Regions from separate parts of the Homo sapiens genome. Here regions 1 and 3 are each linked to region 2. The links come from fine-mapping of genetic effects on gene expression. A gene starts in region 2. Each other region holds a variant in brackets. All regions are shown on one strand. Distances are from middle to middle. Region 1 has its middle 53 kb from the start of LINC02519. Region 2 holds the start of ERMARD (ER membrane associated RNA degradation). Region 3 has its middle 13 kb from the start of LINC00242.

Evidence for each region. PIP is the estimated chance that this variant, and not a neighbour inherited with it, causes the effect. A credible set is the group of variants that fine-mapping cannot tell apart.
Region 1: its variant is the best candidate, but not a certain one, in a credible set for the expression of ERMARD in whole blood (INTERVAL, PIP 0.85).
Region 3: its variant is the best candidate, but not a certain one, in a credible set for the expression of ERMARD in fibroblasts (GTEx, PIP 0.51).

The regions. Positions count from the first base shown.
Region 1 is chr6:169,438,868-169,443,110 of GRCh38, reverse strand. It overlaps a transcript of WDR27 not described here. Among named protein-coding and RNA genes, the nearest start is that of LINC02519, 53 kb to the right of the region's middle. The variant AC/C (reference allele first, on the strand shown) is at 2,133.
Region 2 is chr6:169,749,605-169,753,847 of GRCh38, reverse strand. ERMARD (ER membrane associated RNA degradation) reads right to left here and starts at 2,226. Exons shown (of 18, transcript NM_018341.3): 1 at 2,185-2,226. The coding sequence starts at 2,190. It overlaps DYNLT2 (dynein light chain Tctex-type 2), which reads left to right and starts at 2,276. Exons shown (of 4, transcript NM_174910.3): 1 at 2,276-2,509. The coding sequence starts at 2,390.
Region 3 is chr6:169,809,648-169,813,890 of GRCh38, reverse strand. No RefSeq gene overlaps it. Among named protein-coding and RNA genes, the nearest start is that of LINC00242, 13 kb to the right of the region's middle. The variant G/A (reference allele first, on the strand shown) is at 2,138.

The DNA.
Region 1 (4,243 bases), 310 kb after region 2:
TTCCCAACCTCAGCCCACTTTCCTTGCATGTTTTGTGTCATAGGTCTTCACTCAGACATAGGTAATTCTTTCTTTAAATGCTCATCACATTGTCTTTTGGAATGTGGTCTCCTCTCATTGCCATTGGTAGTCTGTGACTGTTGGCTTTGCAGAATTGTATCAGTTATTAGAGTTTTTTGGTTGCAAGCCACAGAAAATAACTGTGGCATGCTTAATAGCATTGGGAATGTGTGGGGGTGGTGGTGGCCTGCAGAATCCCCAGGCAGCAGGAGGAGGTGTGGGCTCAGGTACAGGCTCAGTCGTCCTGCATCCGTCAGGACAGGACAACTCCAAGGCCAGGTGGCCAGATATGCTCTCCACTGAGCTTCCCACCTATTCTCACTCCAGACTCCAAGCTGTGGTCCCACTCGGTTATGTGCCCACTCCTGGGCCAGGGAAAGGCAGGAGACCACAGGGGACACAGCCAGAGCCACCACTACTACCTCATGAGAAGACAAATTCTTGAAGGGGAGTCAAGATATTTCTGGAAAAAAGAATGATTGTTTGTGGAGGGTGAAAACATGATACAATATTTTCCTAAAATTAGAAGATCTTAAGGAAATAAGGAGATAAAAATATAAAGTTTTACCTTTTACCTTTCACCTGTAAAAGAAAATACAAAACAAACATGAAAAGGGAGGTTCCATATCTCTCCTGATTCTAGATGCTGGGTGTCTATTTTATAAGAATTCTTTCAGACATAAAACATTAACAGGCATGTGTAAATATGGTTTATTGTTTCCAGTAATCTTGGCAGTTACTTGAGTCTAAATTATTTGCCTCAGGAGAGCATATTGTGAGGGCAATAAAGGGAGCCTTTTGAATTCTATTGATAAAGATGTGATTAACACCATTAAGAAGGGAGGAAAAGACTTTCAGTTCCAAACACAACACTGAGAAAACAGAGATGAGGATCCATTTAATTCTTGCTGTCTGAGTGTTTATAGCAGACGAACCTGGCCCATGGGGCAGGGCATGGCTGAACTTTTCAATTCTGGGATGACTTTTCTTATAATTGCCAATGGCCATCACAAGTCAGGGGAAATATTTTATTTTTTTGGCTGAATATCCCAGTTATGTATATAGATAAACATAAAAATAGAACCTATGTGATGGTTTTCCCAAAGCCGTCCTCTTTTTTAAAAACATTTTGCTTCTGAGGTGGCATATGAGTATTGTCAAAGTCAAATAAAAATATATACATGAATCTCTAAATAAAGTGTTTTATTTTAGAGAACAGACTTCAGCTTGAAGCATACACACAGACTAGGTGGTCTTCAGTATGTCCAAAGAAGAAAGAAGATTAAGGGTCTTCTTAGAAAGAAAAATGTTATGCATTGTTGTGAAAGAAAATTCATTGGCACTAGCAAGGTTTTAGGGAGCTGGCAAGCTCGGATTGGTGAGTGACAAGAGTGGGTAACACTAGTCTTGGAGTCACAGGAGTTTGTTTCAGCATCTCCTGCGTAAAAATGGCCTTAAGGTTGCAGCAAGTGACCTGGCAGCTGGCTGGTGAGATTGTCGCTGGGTAACTGACATGGCAGCTGGTTGATAGTGTCCCTGGGCAAGTGACTTGGCAGCTGGCTGGTGAGATTGTCCCTGGGCAAGTGACCTGTGCCTCGGTGCTTCCCACCTGCCGCTGGTCTGACTCTAATCTACTTAGGTGGACAAGTTAACTTCAGTTCACATCATTAATTCTCACATTTCCCCCTTTTGATCAAGATCTTTTTCTGAAAATGTTACTGATCAACTGTCTTGAAATTAGGTTTAATTGTCTTTTGGTGCTTAGTGGACCTGTCTTGGTGGTCTCTGGTCCCCCATCGGGGGAAGTAAGGTAGTCAACATCAGGGACCCAGACCGCATTTGAGTAACAAAGGTGCCAGAAAGAAAAACAGAATGAAACAACCAAAACCTTTCTTAGGGCAGGTTTGCCTGGAGTTTAGCATCAAGTTCTACCTTATTAGTCTCTTAGGCATTGTCAATAATCTCAAAGTATTTGGCTAACATCATCCTGTTGAGATAACTGATTTTTACAAAGATTAGACAAAACACAAGAACAGAGCTTAAATATCAAGAGCAAAATACAAGAAAAAAAA[AC/C]CCAGCAACAATATAATAAATTTAATTTGTACAAAGGTTTTTAACCAAGAGCTCATGCCTAAGGGCAACCAACTCAGCAGATGAAAAAGCCATAGAGGAAGTGGGAAGACTTGTTGTAGCCATGGACTAGCATTTCATGATTAAGATGAATTAAAGCAGAGTGCCAGCTCTGTAGAAAGGACCATTAGTACAATTAGAACAAAAAGTTGTCTTGGGGGTATTGCCAAAATTACCCAACAGGTGGACTTAAGAATTGCTTAAGTCAGGTTTTGTTATGTTATTCATATCGGGTATGATTCTAAACTTTTAATTATGAGCTCATTGTAATTATTATTACAATAATAAATAGATTTTCACTTAAGTAATCTATTATTTAAGTGAAAAAGATAGGCATTAAGAGGGGCAACGGTCTTATTAGAACATGGAGTCTTGGTTTAGTGCTCTTGGGAAAAGTTGCCTACAGCATGAAGTTGGCAGTTTCACAGTTTGAATGTCTCCCATTATGTCACTGGGTGGTTTGGTGAACTCTGTGTAGCCCACACACTAGGCGTGAGGCTTGTCCCCTGAAATTTATTTAAACTAAAACTAAAAACTAAATTTAAACTGTAATTTGTTTATAGGGCGTTAGGAAATAACTATTTCTCTTCTTAGTAATTCTGTGAGAGAAAAATTGAATTACAGGAACTTAGGAGAGTTTAGTATCCTGTCCAGCCTACAGGTAGATAATAAAAACTCAAAAACAATGCATAGGGTTACAGTCTAAAAACAATATACTATAGACAGCCCAATTTTTACAAAAGATCATTAGAGTAACACTAATTTGTTTGTAACATAAATTCAGATTTATTAGATTTGGCCTGATTGTTTATATTAGTATAGCAAGCATAATGATTGAATCTCAGATTGGACCTTTGTTAAAAATATTTTGAAGCTAGGAAGCCAAATCAAGGCAGGCTTCAGATTTTATCTTCAGTATGTATGAGTATAAACAATGTAAAATATGATATATTAATTTTAAATGTGATATATTAAATAATTATATTACCAATATAATAATATTGGTAATATAACTACCAATATAATAATATTGGTAATATAACTACCAATATAATATTGGTAATATAATTAACGATTATAATTGCATCCTATTAAAAACCATACTGTCATAACATAAAAAACTCATGAATAGTTTTCAAGTTTTGAAGGGATCAAGTAGAAAAGTAAATGTTTTCACCTTTGTTTATTAAAGTGCACTTTACCAAATTGCTGTAAGCTATAGGCAGCTCAAGAAAGAAAGTTTTCTTAAATATGGAAAACAAAATATTTAAATGAATAACCAATAATGTTTCAAATAAAAGTCATAAAAATCATAATTTTTATCAGTTATTCAATCTCAGGCAATTAAATTTTGTTCTTCATTATCTTGGTTAGCAGTTTTATGAACCTGTTAGCATTTTAGAAATTTTTATTTAGTCCATTGATCTTAAAGTTACTAGACATCTGTACTGAGGAGTACTTGCTAGAATCTTTTTTATGAATCTTGTTGCAGATGCCACTAGATAAGAATCAGCACTGTAGATGACCAAAAAATTAGAACAGTCACAGTTATAATGTGATAAAAGTTCAGCAATTGATTAAGAAATTTAGTTATTTCTATTGTGTATGGCATTTTAAGATAACAACCAAAATCATTACTGATAGCATCACAGTAAGAACCATCAGACCTTTATAAATTTTATAAATGTTAAAGCATTCACATCAATAATGCATCCATCTAAATATAATTTTAGTAAGAGCTAGTGTCACTTTATTATTTGACAGTGCCTTTATACAACCCATCGAATAAGCATCATGGGAGATGCATCGTTTGATGTTTTTTTGGGGCCCAACTGAAAAATCCCAAAGTCAATTTAAGCTTAAAAGTACTTAAATTAGAATTTGATTTTGGGGAAGTTTGTTAAAGATGTTAAAAAAACTTAAAACATTTAATTAAAATATAATCAGATGTCATTGTGAGATAATTATTTAATCAGAGTGATTATTAAAAGACTTCAAAAGCAAATATAAAAAGTTACATAGTTCAGAGGGAAAAAACTTAGACCTGTACTAG
Region 2 (4,243 bases):
AATAAAAGGCACTGCTTAACAGAAAGAAAAATAGAGTATTATATATTTCAGACACATCTCTTAAGAACTGAATGCACTCAGGTATAGTTGCTGTTAACATGCTTTCTGGATATCGTGAGAGCTGTATGATTAAAACATAGTGATTAAATATTAAAGATAATTTACATAAATGTTCTCAAATATGATAAAGGCTTAAAGACCTAAAATTATCAATCATAATATTTGCAAACTGCTCTGTCTATGGGGTAGCCATTGTTTATTCCTTTACTTTCTTAATAAACTTGCCTTTCACTTAAAAAAAAAAAAGAAAAAATACAAGTTCACGGAAGCTGAATGTGTTTTACGACCAGAGCATTATTGCTCTCAGCATTCCTTCACTATCCCAGAGTTATCAAAATAAGCAATTTTTTTAAATGGGGAATGGGAGAGCAGAAACCAAGTATAACGAACAAGAAGGAAAAAGAACCCCACGTACCTCTGACTACCTAAACGGTGTTGAAGAAAACCACAATGTCATCCCAAAACATGCCTCTTCGATATAAAAACAACAACAAATTTGAGCTGAAGACAAGAGGCAGCAAATGAAGGAAAAGCTCTCTCTATCCTCCCCCTCTTCCGCCCAAAGACAGGATATAAATTCTTTACTGGGGATAACTTTAGACTTACCAGACCAGTTAAGGTACCAGGGGAATCTGCAAACAATTCTTACTCCATTAGTTTCCGAATATGTATCTACCTTCCCAATTTCCTGCCCTTTGAAGCCTAAAACTGCTCTCCTGTGTCCTGTCACTTCTCTGCAAATCTACAGTTCTTTGTTGAAGATGGTATACAAATGTAGTTCTAAGCCACCATTTCAAGTTACTTCTCATTAAGGTTTATCCCTTGTGATGTGTACTCTGTCCAAGAATAAACTTTTTTCTTGTTATCCTTTCATTTGTTAAAGGGGTCACTCCGAACTAAGATGGGCAGAGGTAAAGTTTAGCCTTCCCTGCCATGTAAAAAGTAGCAAACCGTACTGGTTTTCCATGGAGAATTAAATACAATCGAAATCCTCACAATTACCCCACATGACACTAAGACCATCGTATAAACCTGCAAAGAAGTCAAATTCAGGATCTAAAGCGGAACCGAAGCTCTTTATTTTGGTGTGTTGAGTTAAGGGGGGGCTGTGTTGTGACAGTCATAATTAGCTCTGGGCAGCTTCCTAATGTGGAAACTGCTATCAGTTGCCCTGTTTGCTCCTCCTGCACCCAGAAGTTGCACTTTCCACTCTCAGCCCTGGTTTTCGAACAATCCCAGCAGGCCCTAACAATTAAGTCATCACTAAAGAAATCTACATCAACTATTTGTTGATTGGCGATTGTCACTCGCATCCTCCATGTGGCTCTATGGGGCTGGAACTCTGCAGACTACACTGGGCCGGTGCTTTGGAGCTGGACTTAAATTTGAATCATTCCTCAGCCTCTGACTACCTCTTGCCTTGGAAAAGTTACTTTATCGGAATCTCAGTTCTAAGTGAAATAAAACGGTGCCAGGCTGCACCTGGTAGGGCTACAGTAATCAGATAACACATGAAAAGCATCTAGCACATAGTACTCAAAAATGGTAGTTATCGTTATCATCATTTTGGAGACGGGGTCTCGCCGTCGCCCAGACAGGGGTGCAGTGGCGCGATCTCGGCTCACTGCAGCCTCCACCTCCTGGGCTAAAGCGATCCTTCCACCTCAGCCTACGGAGTAGATGGGACCACAGGCCCCACCACGCCCGGCGATGAACACAAATTTACTGTCCGAGTGTGGACCCTACAGGCAGCGACTAGGAAACTGCGCTTCTAGGAACGAGCCACGGTCAGGTGAGAGCCCGACCTGCGGCTTTCCGCCCCCGCGCCACCGCGCACAGCCCTCCCTGACCGTCCGCCGCGTTCCAGCTCAGGGCCAGGAGGCGACGGAGAAACCGAGCCTGGCCCAGGGAGGCCGGCAGGGCCCGCCAGGCGTCTTGCAGGGCCGAGCGTCCGATACCGCCACAGAGGCCAGGGCCGCGACGTCGCCAGCGCCCTCCAGCGCGGGACCGCCGGCCACCGCAGGCGCGTGCTCGCTCGCCCACTCCGCGTAGCCGAGCACCACCCAGCCTGGCGCCGACTCCCTGCCTAGCTCGGGATCGAACCGGGCCCTACACCCGCCCTACCTCCATAACTTCCGGTGCCCCGCTGCGGCGCGCGTGAATGACGCAGGCGCCTGCGCGCCCCTCCTCCAGGCGCTTTGGAGCCCTGGCGGGCACTTCCTACCGTACGAGGCGCAGGTGGGAGACTTCCGCCCTCGCGGGACTGGCTAGGGCGTTTGACCGCCGGCGGTGAAGGGGAGGCGGTGGGCGTCTTGGAGAACAGAGCGAGATGGAGAAGCGAGGCCGAGGCGTGAAGTCGAGCCCCATCCAGACCCCGAACCAGACCCCTCAGCAGGCTCCGGTGACGCCTAGGAAAGAAAGGAGGCCTAGCATGTTCGAGAAGGAGGCAGTGAGTGCGGAGACTGCTAGGGGCCCGAGACGGCTATGTCCGACCGTTTAAGTGAAATCGCTCCCCAGTGGGCCCCGCTCCCGTCACCACCCCCAGAGCCAAGGAGGCAGCATCTCCCTTTTGTGTTTCTTTTTTCCCCAGATGCGAAATTGAAGCCTGAGACTGAGTTGGGCAGTCCCCTTTGGACTTGAGTGCTAAAGTTTTCTTGTTTTTTAATTAGGGCCATAGAACCCTACATAAGTCGATTGGAAGGGTGGTTACAAGATCTTCTTTTCAAATTTACTCAGCTTGCGGATTTCCTGAGAGTACTCTGAGTATTATTGCTTTGTACTAAAACACAGTATGTTAGTGTATTTAGTGCCATTATAAGCAGTTTTGCTAGCGAAAAATGAGTGTGTTGTATTAAAAAAATAATTTGATAAACCAGGCAGAATAGTGCCATGTTTTGGGTTTTTAAAACATCAGCAGTCTGGATATTTGAAGAATGTACAGGAGAAAAAAACTTAAGTTGAAAATACCCTGTCCAAAACTTACTGATATTGATGGAAAGGGTCATTATTCAGTTTTATTGGTGGTATAACAGGTATTTCTATATGATTAGGCTTTGAAAACCGTTAATGTATTAAAGACTCTATATTTTATTGATACTTTAACAGAAAATTAGTTTGCCCAAGGATACAAAGCTGTAATGATAGAGCTGGGACCAGAACCTGTATGCTAGTACTCGGTCCAATTGGCCTATACTGGTTTCTCTTCGTACTTACTTCGTGGACCTATAATAGGATGAAGATAGAGATGACAGGCAAAACAATTTTTTGAAGACCCTAAAACATTTTAAGATTACTCTTAAAAAGAGAATTCTCAAAATAATGGCGAAATTTCAGGTTCTTGTTTCCCTGGTGTCTACATTTTACAGAGGAAAGAACGAACTAAATAAAGGAGGAAAAGCAAACAGGCCAAGTTTACACAGCTAAGAAAAAGAGCAGAGCAGGGCTAGAAACCTAAATCAGTTGGACTTAAAACTTCACACTCCCAAACACTATGCTGTATTTCTTGGCAATGAGTCTGAGTAACAGGTCACCAACAGTAAAGAAAAATTTCTATATATTGAGGCAGACAAGGGTGGCTTTTATAAACTTACTGCCTATCTGAGGTCTGAAGTGGTCTTTAAAATTCAATGAGCCTGAACTCAAAATGAGGAGACACATAGGTGCACCTGGTATATAGGTTAAAATCTGGGAGTGAGGGGACATGGACCAAAGTAATTATTAGTATTTGATATGGATGTGATCAATTATAGCTATCTTTAAAGTTGATTCTTTTAGAGGTGAGAAATTTGAATAGAACAATAATTGGGAAGAAATTGAGAAAGGACTCTACAAATGCTCACTAAATGTACCTGAGGAAACTGTTCACTTAGTTATTTCTAATTTAAGGTAGCTGTTAATTTCCCTATTTTGGAGCATAGGAAAATTTAAGACATACTGTTTCATCAATATGACCATCTCTTGATTTTATCTGTCTTGCCTCCATTTCTTTTTTTCTAGTGGTAGCACCTCAGTTAACTTTTAGAGAATTAACTCATCTGCAATTGTATAGAGCTTTGGTGAGATTGTCAGCTACTTCCCTTAACTTTTTAATAAGGATGAGACCCAAACTAAGCTAATTAGATGAATTCTTTGAAATAATGCAAAGAAAATGATTGAGGTTTATTCACATTGAAGATGAGAAGCT
Region 3 (4,243 bases), 60 kb before region 2:
TTGACTCTTGTAAAGGTGTCTTTCTTTCCTTTTCTCCAGACCCCAAATGCATAGAGATTGTCTGAAAGTATCAGACACATTCTTGGCAGTTCCCTTTCTTTCCTACACTGGCTTTTGTATCTGGCTTTAGATCAGAACAATCATTTGAATAAGGCCCTTCTGTCCTCAGCCTCCAGAAATACCTTTTTCTAAGGATCACCCGAAGCTACCTCTACCTTCCACCACTTGGCTAAGAATCAAATTTAGAAAACATTTCTCAAAGCTAATGTTTGTGAAGATGCTTCCAAATTTGTTGGGTAAAATATTCTATGAATGTTGCTGAATCTCTGTTTAAAATATCAGTATTCCTCCGTGGCCAAATGTCACCATTAACCATCAACATAACCCTATTAAATTATTAGAATGAGAACCTAGAAAGTGGGAAATAAAGGACAAATCACCAGGGAGAAGTTTATTCCAGAAATAGATTTGTGAGCCCAGAAAAAGACGTCATTGTTCAAGCCAAGAGCAGGGGAAGTCTTCTAAAGTGAGATAAAGATGGGGGCAGAACTAGGCCTTGCGAAGCCTGGTGGTTTTATAATGGGATTGGTTGGTGGGGGGGAGTTATTCAAGAAAAGGAGTCCCTCCACGCACATTCGAAAGGAGAAGGGAGATGGAAGCAAATTACATACTTGAAAAATCGGGCAAAGCCACAGACATCACAGAATCCAAAATCAGTGTTTTCAGTCACCTGCCTGACACTGCCTCATTTCTCCAGCTCTTTTTCTACACTTTCTCACACCTTTGACTGCTTTTATGTGTGACAATTTTGATATATCATTTCTTTTTTTTTTTCAGATGGATTCTTGCTCTCTCGCCCAGGCTGGAGTGCAGTGGCACAATCTCGTCTCACTGCAACTTCCGCCTCCCAGGTTCAAGTGAGTCTCCTGCCTCAGCCTCCCGAGTAGCTGGAATTACAGGCAAAAGCCACCATGCCCAGCTAATTTTTGTATTTTTAGTGGAGACGGGATTTCACCATGTTGGCCAGGCTGGTCTCAAACTCCTGACCTCAAGTGATCCGCCCGCCTCAGCCTCCCAAAGTGCTGGGATTACAGGCGTGAGCCAATGCACCCTGCTGATATATCATTTTCTATTAAGAGAAGAGAAAGCTAATTCAGCTTTTCCTCTAATAAGTTTTACATAAATCTGTTTTTATCGTATAGGTATCTCAAACCCATTTCCTGCAGTTTCATATTTTGTTATTGAACTTCTACATTTTTACAGGTGAGAGCATTCCTGGAAGGATTCCCGCATCGGGACACTGGCAGTAACTTCTCCACGCACAGAGGCGAGGCAACCCCACCGGCATCCTGACTAAACCCAGGTTTGTCCCTGGCTCCGTGGGCTGTAGCTGGACACCAGCTGCGGCCGCCACACTGAACAGCCAGCACGATGCCGTCGGGGTGCGGATGGAAAGAGAAATCCCACCTGCTGGGGCCTGGAGCCTCAGAAAGTCGCCCTCAGAAAGGTAGGTGCTGACATCGAGGCCAGCTAGCCTTGTGGTAATGGCCTGGGCTGGGCCACTGATTTAGGCGGTGAGGCGGCTGGCAGAGGACAGGAGCAACGGGGACCTTGGAGTGTCCACCCCTGGGGACCTGTGGAGGCGAGAGTTTGAAAAGGTTTGATTTGCCCATGAAATGCACAGGGGCACAGGGGAAAGTTGAGGGGTCCCGAGCCCACCCTGACTTGGGGATCAATGTTGCGTCGGGGTGGGAAGGTTGAGCGTGGCAAAGGCACACCCATGGAACGGCCCAGGAAGAAGGGGAGCCACTCATCAGGGCACAGCACAGGCTCGAGTTCTGCCTGCAGTGAAGGAAAACAAGACCCACTTGGCTGGGGATGGGGAACAATAGAGGCAGCAGATGGGGGTGCCCAGTGAAGCCACAGCCCATCCACAGCACATAGTGGGTTGGAGAGGGAGGAAGGGAGTCGGCTTTGAGTATGGACGGAATGGTCAGGGAGAAGGAAGTGAGGCTGTTCCCCTTGCAGGTCCTGTCCTAGCCAGAGGCCACTCAGGGACAGCTCTGTGCAGTCTCTTCCACCCTGAGGCAGCTCTTGCCCACGATCTGCGATGACAGGCCCGGCACAGCCTCATGCC[G/A]CCAGGCAGAAACGGGGACCCTACGTGGCAGGGAAGGCATTGAGGCCTTGGTGGACAGTGGGCTCGGCCAGGTCACTCCTCAGAGGCCAGCCCCAACCTCCCCTTCTGTGCTGAAGGCAGCTTCACAGCAGGCAGGCTGGGGTCCACATCAGTATAGAAACCACTCTTGCAGCTGGGTAGAGGACCCACAGGCAGAAACAGGCGGCCTCTGATCAGATTTGGTTGTCCCCGGTGGCACTAAAGGGGGATGAGGGGTGGCAGAGAAACCAGATCATATTTTGGCATTTGGGGTCTTCTCCAGCCCCACAGCTCAGGCTGGCCCAACATTGCTCCTCACATAAATACCAGAGCAGGATACCTGCCTTTCCCCGTCTGAGCCTAAGATTTCATTCATCTGGTCTTGACAAATCCCATTGTCAGAGGGCCAACGCTAAGTCAGCTGGCAAAGCTCTGTGAGAACGCCCCCAAAGCCGGTGAAAGGGTCCTGTCCAGAGGCACAAAGCCCACCCTCACCCCAGCCCACCTCTAATAGCACCGCATGCCAGGGACGGCCCAGGACAATGCCACCTCTTCCCCCAAGTTCCCTGGACCCTAACTACAGGCCTCGTGCTATTAAGATTAAGACACTAATCCATGCTTCATCTCCGGTCCTTTGAGGCCATTTTTAAAGGTAATTCAGTGCTACCCATTTGAGGACTTGAGACAAAACCTTGGGCAGGAATGACCTTTGATTCCCATCCAGGCTCTGACTAAGGCCTCAACAGGTGAAGCCTTTAAAGTTAGCCTTTTTCATTCTGTCCTGACAATGCTGATTGATAACACAGAGCTAATCTCCTGCTTTTGTTCCCAGGGGGCAAAGGTTTGAGCTGCCCCTTTTGAATCTGGGTCGTTTAACTATCCAGCGAGTGAATCATAACGCGACCTGAGACCCTGGGATTAATTCCCTGCAGGATATGCTTTCCCGGGATCCCAGAGGCCAGGGCCTCTCCTTGGCTGAACACAAACTGGGGGAAACCACGCCTAGAATCTGTGTCTGGTGCTCCACCCGCGGGAAGATCAGCATCAGAGAGTCTCATTATCCACAGGGCTCACGCCAGCTGATCTGCACGTGCAAGGCCTGGGGAAACCCCGGTGTCCTCCCAAGCCTTTGACCAGTGAAAGCCTCTCTCATGTCTGGTTCAGCTGCAGCAACTGCCCAGCGGCCTCTAACAGCCCCCAGAAGTACAGGTGTGCAGCCTGCCCACCGAGGCCACTCCCCTGAGCCCTGTGTCAACGAGGCTGCTCCCCCAAGCCCTGCCCACCGAGGCCACTCCCCTGAGCCCTGCATCATGGGCTCAGTAACTTCCTGCTGCTTCCTACCTGGGCTTTCCGTCCAGTTGTTCCCTTAACCCATCCTAAGCTCAGCTTCCCTAGGCAGAGCCGGAGAGTAACACAGGCCAGCAGAGATAGAAAAAAGAGATAACACTCAGAATAGTTAACAACGTTTGCTCCAACAACACAGGCTCCACAACCCTCCCCAGGTCAGGGTGAACAGCTAAGCCTCAGCACTGGAGAAGTCTTCAAATTGTACAGTTGAACTTAGCTTTTCAAACTTTTTAGAGCATTTCAAGCTTGAACTTCAATTGTATTATTTCAAGATTCAACTAGGGCATAAAATACTGAAGTTTATTTCTGGAAACATAAGTAGTTACATTTACATTATGTGTAGCATGCTGTCTTTCCAAACGTCACCCAACTCCACACACCGAACTCAGAGCAGAGTCTCCTCGGAGAGTGGGGGCATTGGCTTGAGGAAAAGGATGGAAGCGTTTCAATGTATATGTGATAGATAGAAAAAAGAGATAACACTCAGAATAGTTAACAACCTTTGCTCCAACAACACAGGCTCCACAACCCTCCCCAGGCCAGGGTGAACAGCCTTGTGTATTTCAGAAAATAAAGAAGTGTGGAAAAATACTGTGTTTGGGATTTAGGTGGTGAGTACCTAGAGGTTCTATGTTGTTCTCTGTACTATTCTGTGAGTTCTAACCAAGAATAAATAAATAACAAATTACTGTTATGTATTGACAGCAGGGGCTGTCACTGCTGGGGTCTCAGTGCCAGGGG